Homo sapiens: one gene and its partner. The protein of the gene in region 1 interacts with the protein of each later gene in a pairwise test. Each region holds a gene or a part of one and is shown on either strand. Other genes may lie near its edges. The genes, in order: OPA1 and TESC.

Region 1 (3,817 bases):
CCTGCCTCAGCCTCCCGAGTAGCTGGGATTACAGATGCCCGCCACCACACCTGGCAAGTTTTTTGTACTTTTAGTAGAGACAGGGTTTCGCCATGTTGGCCAGGCTGGTCTTGAACTCTTGACCTCAGGTGATCCGCCCTCCTCAGCCTCCCAAAGTGCTGGGATTACAGGCATGAGCCACTGCACCCAGCCAAGAAATGTTATAGCAATGTATATTAACAGTCAGTGGTTTCACAAGAACTTCTAAATGCCTAATTGACACCTTTCTAGCTTCTCTATAGTTATTTTACTTTAAAAATACAATTCCTTCTACTGAGATTAGCTAAACAGGCTAAATTTAAAAACAATAAACAGCTGTTGGAAAGCTGTTTAGCTATTTTCCATCAGAGGATTTGCTGATTTGTAGCACAGGGCAAAGGCCCAAGAGAAAAACTTAAAATGTGTAGCAGTTTCACTGGGTTGAGTAGACAAGATTGGAATTCCGAGTTATTAAGTAGTCACGTCTTAAGGTGCCACAATCCCAAAGAAAAATGAACTGCAGAAATAAACCTCCAAAACAAAACAAAACCCTACATCCTGCGCACAATTTCCTTTCACGGCATTCACATTTTAGGAAACCAAGCAGAAAGAAGCTGCTAAGGAGGTTAAAATGCTAAGCTGGGGTTTTGGCACTTTCACTGCTCTAGGGAAACAAAAAACTGGAATTCAGGGTTGGTCAAGGAGAAGCTCTAGTAAACACTAAGGGACTAATGACAAACCGGAAAGAGACCAGCCTCATCTGTTTCAAGGAAACCTGTCCACACCCTGCCTGCCAAAACAAAATTAATTTCTTCTTGAAGTATCATCCACAGCTTCTACAATTAGGATGCTAGTAACAATGTAAAAGGTAGGTTTCTCTCCCATGTTTTTACAACTGATTATTGAACAGGATATGAGGTGTAGTCTGAGGTTCATTTTGTTTTTTTCTCTAGGTTAGATGTACCCCAAATTCCCATCGGTAGTAAAATGGATATGTAAAGTCTGGTACAGTCACACAGTACCACACACAGAACTAGTAACACATAACACGATTCAATCCATAGCTAGACCCACAAAAGTGCAATCTAGATGAATCACACTAGGCTGCCCATACCCTGTTGCACTTGTAAACAGATTTCATTTCTTGAAGATTTCAGCATCAGCCTCACTGTCTTTCTCCCACTATTCTTGCCATAATTCTTGGTAATTTCAATCTTCCAATTATTCTACACCTACCCCCCACCAGCTAAACATGAAAAAAACAAAACACAATCATAATGATTCATTTAAAATTTATGTCCACAGAACTTAAAGGGACTTCAGTCCACCTCAGTAATCCTAATATCACTTGACTTTCTCCACTGATTCACTCCTAGAGTCACCACGATCTGTTAACAGACTTCACTTTTTCTTCCTGCCTCAGTCTTTAATCTCTTCTCCTTTCTAATTAACAGCTGATCATCTGGCTTAGTATTTCACTGAGTAAGCGGAAGCAATCAGAAGGAAACTTCCACACGTTCCCCTTTCTTGCCTCCACTGGTGAACTCAACGACTGGTTTCTATGTTCACCTTCCTTGATGGATCAGCAGCATGTGACCTCACTGAGCACTCCCTCCTCCTCCATGTTTTCTTTTTGTTTACCTGACTTTGCGCACACTGTCCTGCTCTGCTTTCCCTCTTACTATACTGGTTGGGCCTTCACACATTCCTTTGTTATTTTCTCTTCCCTCAACATCTTAATGTTCAGAGTGCCCAGAATATACTGCTTGCTTCTGTGTTTTCTCTATCTCTACTCACTCCCTTGAAGATCTTCTCCAGTAAGATCATGACTTTAAATACTACTTTTAGATAGTTGATCATGACTCCTAAATGTATGTCTCTGGCCCACACCTCTGTCTAAACTTGTATACCCAACTGCTTGTTATCACCACTCAGCAAGTCCAAAACTGAACTCCTGATCTTCTTCCCCCAAACCTGATCCACTGACAGACTTCCATGCAAACTACATCCTTCAATTTGTTCAGGCTAAAGACCCTGGAGGCATCATTGATGATTGACACTCTCTCTCTCTCTCCCCATTGCTTTTCTTCTCTCCCCTCTCCATATCAAACCTGTCAAGAAATCCTGTTAATTCTACTTTCAAAACACATTTATAATCTATCCATTTCTTACCAGTTTCACTGCTACTTCCCTAGCCCAAGTATCACCTGGATACTCCAGTAGCCTAGACTCCCTGGTTCTACATCTTGGCTACAACTATTTTCAAAAGAGCAGCCTTTTAAAAGGCACTTTTGTTACTTTGCTCGAAATCCTGCACTGGCTTTCCATTTTACTTAAAACGGAAGTCTGTACAATGGCCTATAAGGCCTTATTGATCTGTTCCTCCCCGCTCTTCATTATTCCTCTAATGTCATCATTTGCCCCGACCATGGCTAGCTCTTCACCCCGACCTGACCACACAGGCCTCTTTGTTGTTCCTTGAACATGACAGCCACACAACCACCTCAGAGGCTTTGCATCAGCTATTCTCCTTGCTGAACACAGGATATCCTCAGGACTACTCCCTCACTTTCTGCAAATCTTGGTTCAAATGCCACCTTATCAATGCAATCTATGAATACTCTGGCACCCTCATTCTCCTTGCCTGGTTCTGCTTTTTCTTGTTGTACAACACTATTGCCTTCTAACCTACTATACAATTATGTATTATATTTATTATCTATTATCTGTCTCCCTCTACTAGAACATACCCTCCATTAAGGCAAGGTTCTTCTTTGTTGTTGCTGTTTACCAACATATTGCCTAGAATGCTACTGGTACATATTAAGCATTCCGTAAATATCTGTTCAATGAAAGACTCTGCAGCCCCATACCTTCTTCCTGTGACCCTGGAGAAATTGTCAGTGCTCCCAGATATGGACTAGTACACCAAGTCACAATCTCCTTCACCTCAGTAACTTTGCTCTTGCAATTTTCCCTCTCTCTTGCATCATTTCCCCCCTTTATTAGATCATTATAATCAGCATATAAACATCTTTAATCCTTTTCCCACTTGCTCCGACAATATTTGCCAGCACCGCTTGCAGCTGCAGCATTTGCCCCAACATAACTCTGCCATAAAATATCTTCACTTTTATGATTATTTTCACATAGCTCTAGTGTACTGACTTTGGAAACAAAAGACATTCTATTTCAAGCATTCTGTTTTTAGTAGCGGTACGTCCATTTACAAAATATAGTAATTTTCAATAGCTGAAAATGTCAAATCCTAGAAAATGCGGAATTCCTATGTGTGATGTTTACATCATTCTCAAAAAGTTGTTGGCCGAAGATTGATTTGATAAATCTGACTTTTAAAAAACAGACATTCTGATGATTGGGACGATTCTGATGTTAGTACTGTTTAGAAATAACTCTAAGAACAGTTTTTATATTTTATTTTCACATTGAAAATTAGTCAGATTTGCTTCAGCTTCAGAGAGTGTGTTTACGTAAAATTAAATGAGCACTGGTGTTGAGCTGCACTTTTTTTCTAAACAGGAAAAGGGTTAAAAACCTTCCCTTAATTCAACAATATTCAATTGCTACTGCTTCATTTCTCTGCTCTTTTGTCACAATAAAACTAGAAAATTATCTATATTCATTGACTCCACTTCCAATATTCTCATTCTCTTAACTTCTCTCTTATCTTATTCAGAATAAAATCCAAAGGCCTCCCAACTGGGTCTCTGTCATCCTCTCCTACCACTCTCCCCTCACTCAGCTCCTGCCACACTGGCCTCCTGGCTGTGCCTTCTAC
Region 2 (3,817 bases), on another chromosome or scaffold:
GGCCCATGCAATGGAGTTTTTTTGTTTGTTTGTTTTTTGAGATGGAGTCTCGCTCTGCCGCCCAGGCTGGAGTGCAGTGGTGCAATCCTGGCTCACTGCAACCACAATGGAGTATTTTTTAGCCATAAAAAGGAACCAAGTACTGATAGATGCTACAACACAAATGAATCTAAAAAACATGATGCTAAGTGAGCCCGGGCGCCGTAGCTCACACCTGTAATCCCAGCACTGTGGGAGGCCGAGGCAGGCGGATCACTTGAGGTCAGGAGTTCAAGACCAGCCTGGCCAACATGGTGAAACCCCATCTCTACTAAAAATACAAAAATTACCCGGGTGTGGTGGCGCACATCTGTAATCCCAGCTACTTGGGAACCTCAGACACAAGAGTTGCTTGAATCCGGGAGGTGGAGGTTGCAGTGAGCCAAGATCTCACCATTGCACTACAGCCTGGTAGACTGTAGTCTCAAAAAACTTTTGAGTTTTGAGACTCCGTCTCAAAATACAAACAAAAAAAACCCATTATGCTAAGTGAAAGAAGCCAATTACAAATGACCACATATTACATAATTCCATTTACATGAATTATCTGGAATAGGTAAATACACCGCGGTAGAAAGCAGATTGGTGGTTGTCAGGGGGTTGGGGAGAGGGGAATGTGGTGTGCCAGCTGAGGGTACAGCTTTCTTTTGGGAGTGATGAATATGTTCTAATATTGACTGCAGTGCTGGATGCAGAACTCTGTACATACAACAAATGTCACTGAATTGCACATTTTAATGGCTAAGTTGTATTATGTAAATTACATTTCAGTAAAGCTGTTAAAAAAAAAAAAAAAAAAAGCCAGCCAGGTGTGATGGCATGCGCCTGTAGTCCCAGCTAGCAACCAATGCAGGAGGCTGAGGCAAGAGGATTGTTTAAGCCCAGGAGTTCAAGGTTACAGTGAGCTATGATGGTGCCACTACACTGCAGCCTGGGTGATACAGTGAGACTCCAATCTCTTAAAAAAAAAAAAAAAAAGGCAAAAAAAGCTTGGCTGGGGAGAGGGGAGGGTGAATTTCACAGGAGGACACCCTGTAGCTGGCACAGGTAATGCTGAGTCCTAGAGGCTGCAGGTTTGCAGGCAGGGGCGTCAGCCACTCCCTCACCTGCCTGCCCTCCTCCCCTGCCTTTCACAGAAGGCCATCCTGGGTTCTCTCAATCTGCTTCCTGCTCACCTTTTCCTTCTGCTCCATGGGCCTCCACGGGCAGTGTCTTGGGAAGGACCCAGCACACAGGCTGGTGATCCTAGGGAAAAAGGTGTCAGGCCCAGGTAGGGAAGGCAGAGGGTATCAGCCCACTGAAAATGAGGACGTCCGGGTGGGAAGTGATGACGGGACAGTCATTGGGAGTGGGATTCAACACTAGGACAGACAGATGCTGGAGAGGAGGAGGCAAAACAGATGCAAGGGACTCTACGCCGTTTGGGTTGGAAGATTCTGTGAACGCCTTGTGGCCCCTGTGCTGCCCTGCCTTACGCATTGGAGGGGTGGGGATGGAGGCATGGAGAGGCACAGCAGGACCTGGCCGATTCCCGGGTCCCTCTGTGTCCCCGGCATGGCCTCCTGTCCCTCCCACCCAGGCCTTTCAGCTGGGCTCACTCATGGCCTCTGGCCAAACTCAGTAGCTGTGTCAGGGCAGACTCATGTTTTAGATTCCCAGAAACCCAGTTCAAAAGAAGGAGGTAGACTCGGGACAGCTGGCCCAGAGAGATGGGATGTTATTTGGCCATGGAAAAAAAAATAAGATTATTTTTTGGCCATAAAAAGGAACAAGGTTTTTTGTTTTGTTTTTTTGAGACAGAGTTTCACTCTGTTGCCCAGGCTGGAGCGCGGTGGCACAATCTCGGCTCAATCTCCATGGGCCTGCTCCATAGTGGATCTCGGCTGCAATCTCCGCCTCCCGGGTTCAAGTGATTCTCCTGCCTCAGCCTCCCGAGTAGCTGGGATTACAGACATGTGCTACCACGCCCAGCTAACTTCTGTATTTTTAGTAGAGGTGCGGTTTCACCAGTTGGCCAGGCTGGTCTCAAACTCCTGACCTCAGGTAATCCACCCACCTCAGCCTCCCAAAGTGCTGGGATTACAGGTGTGAGCCATTGCACCTGTCCAGGAACGAGATTCTCATCCATGCCACAGCACGGATATACCTGGAAGACATGATGCTCAGTGGAAGAAGCCAGACACAAATGGTGTACGATGCCATTTATAGGAAACATCCAGAAAAGACAAATGCAGGGAGACAAAGTGGAGAGATGTGGTTTCCAGGGGCTGGGGACGGGGTGATGGCTAACGGGTGCAGAGCTTCTTTCTGAGGTGCTCTAAAGTGGACTGTACATTTTCAATGGGCGAATTTTATAATATGTGCATTACAGCTCCATAAAGCTGTTAAAATTTTCTAATAAGTCTTTAAAAAAACAAAAAAGAACTGCTGTGCTACTGCACTATGACTCCATTTATGTAAAGAACAGAAAGTGACAACACGAACCTCTGCAGTCAGGGTGGTGAACCGCCCCAGAGTTGGGGGTGATTGAGAGGGAATATGGGGGCCTTTTGGGAGCCGGGAACATTCTGTTGCATGTTCCGTCTGTCAAAGTCCCTCTGTGTGTGACACATGCTTTTCTGTATGCAGGTCACACCCTCACTGCTCGGAGACAGCTCGATGCCTTGCCCTTTTTCCTCATTAGTGGGAGGCGACCACAGGAGGGGACAGAATAGAGAGACCAGAGCCCTGAATGAGTCAGGGTTACCAGGGAGATGATCTACGAAATCACGATCGGATGACAATGACAGCTACAGCTCACAACCGTGCAAGCAACTTGGCCGGAGCCACCTCGCTTCCCAGAGACCCCACAAGGGCTCCTATTATCCACGACGCTTCAGGCTCAGCACAGACAGGTTCGGCAACCTGCCCCAGCTCACCCAGTGGGGGCATGGAAGAGTCAGCTTGGAAGCCAGGTAGCGTACAGCCATGCTCTTACCAGATACCCTGCTGCCCGACTCTCCCTGGCCATCCGAATAGAATCCATTTTCCAAGGCCCAGATCCCTGAGAAAGGGACCACGTGGAGCTCCAGAGGGAATCTGGGAGAACAGAGAAGCCGCTGGCTGCTATGCTGCTAGCCAAACCCTCTCTGGCTTTCACTGGCTGTTGCTAATCCTTCCTGAGTCTGTTTTCTCGTCTGTGAGGAGGGCACACTGATACTGACAGAGGGTGAAGGGCACAGCCTCTGGAATCACACTTGGGCTCTACCCTACTCTGCTACCTGGGTCAAACGGCGTTGCCTCACCCAGCCTCTGTCTACTCCTTTGCAAACAGGAACCTCACAGGGTTGCCGTACAGTTTAGAGGAGATAAAGTCTGCAACATGCTCAGCACGGTGTCTGGTGAACTGGGAGTGCACCACAGATGGCACCTTGCAGGATGGGGACCCTGTGATGTCCACAGCACCCCGTCCTCAGTGCCTTGCACTGCTGGGCTTGGCAAGGTGGTCAATAAATGGTTTGCTGAGCGAATAATGAAGCGAATAATGAAGATGGCTGCACGCAGGGCTTCCCTCTTTGTCTGGCCCATCCTGAGGCACTGCCCTTCCCCAGGTGCCTTCCCCAGGGCCCAGGTGTCCAGACCCTGGAAGGAGAGCAGACCCCAATGTCCCAGGAGAGAGGGAGGAGAGGTGGGGGAGAAACCACCTAGAAGAGCCTGACCCATGTGCCTGGAGAAGAAATTAACTCAACACAAGAGGCCTGTCCCCAACCAGCAGCAACAAGACATGCTTGACCTGCTA

The links.
Region 2: the proteins of OPA1 (region 1) and TESC interact in a two-hybrid assay, tested with the Homo sapiens proteins (one large-scale study listed by IntAct).

What each region holds. Positions count from the first base shown.
Region 1 is NC_000003.12:193,638,208-193,642,024, reverse strand, and holds part of OPA1 (dynamin-like GTPase OPA1, mitochondrial), read right to left. Parts: intron 1-3,817. UniProt on the Homo sapiens protein: Dynamin-related GTPase that is essential for normal mitochondrial morphology by mediating fusion of the mitochondrial inner membranes, regulating cristae morphology and maintaining respiratory chain function.
Region 2 is NC_000012.12:117,057,746-117,061,562, forward strand, and holds part of TESC (calcineurin B homologous protein 3), read right to left. Parts: intron 1-3,817. UniProt on the Homo sapiens protein: Functions as an integral cofactor in cell pH regulation by controlling plasma membrane-type Na(+)/H(+) exchange activity. Promotes the maturation, transport, cell surface stability and exchange activity of SLC9A1/NHE1 at the plasma membrane.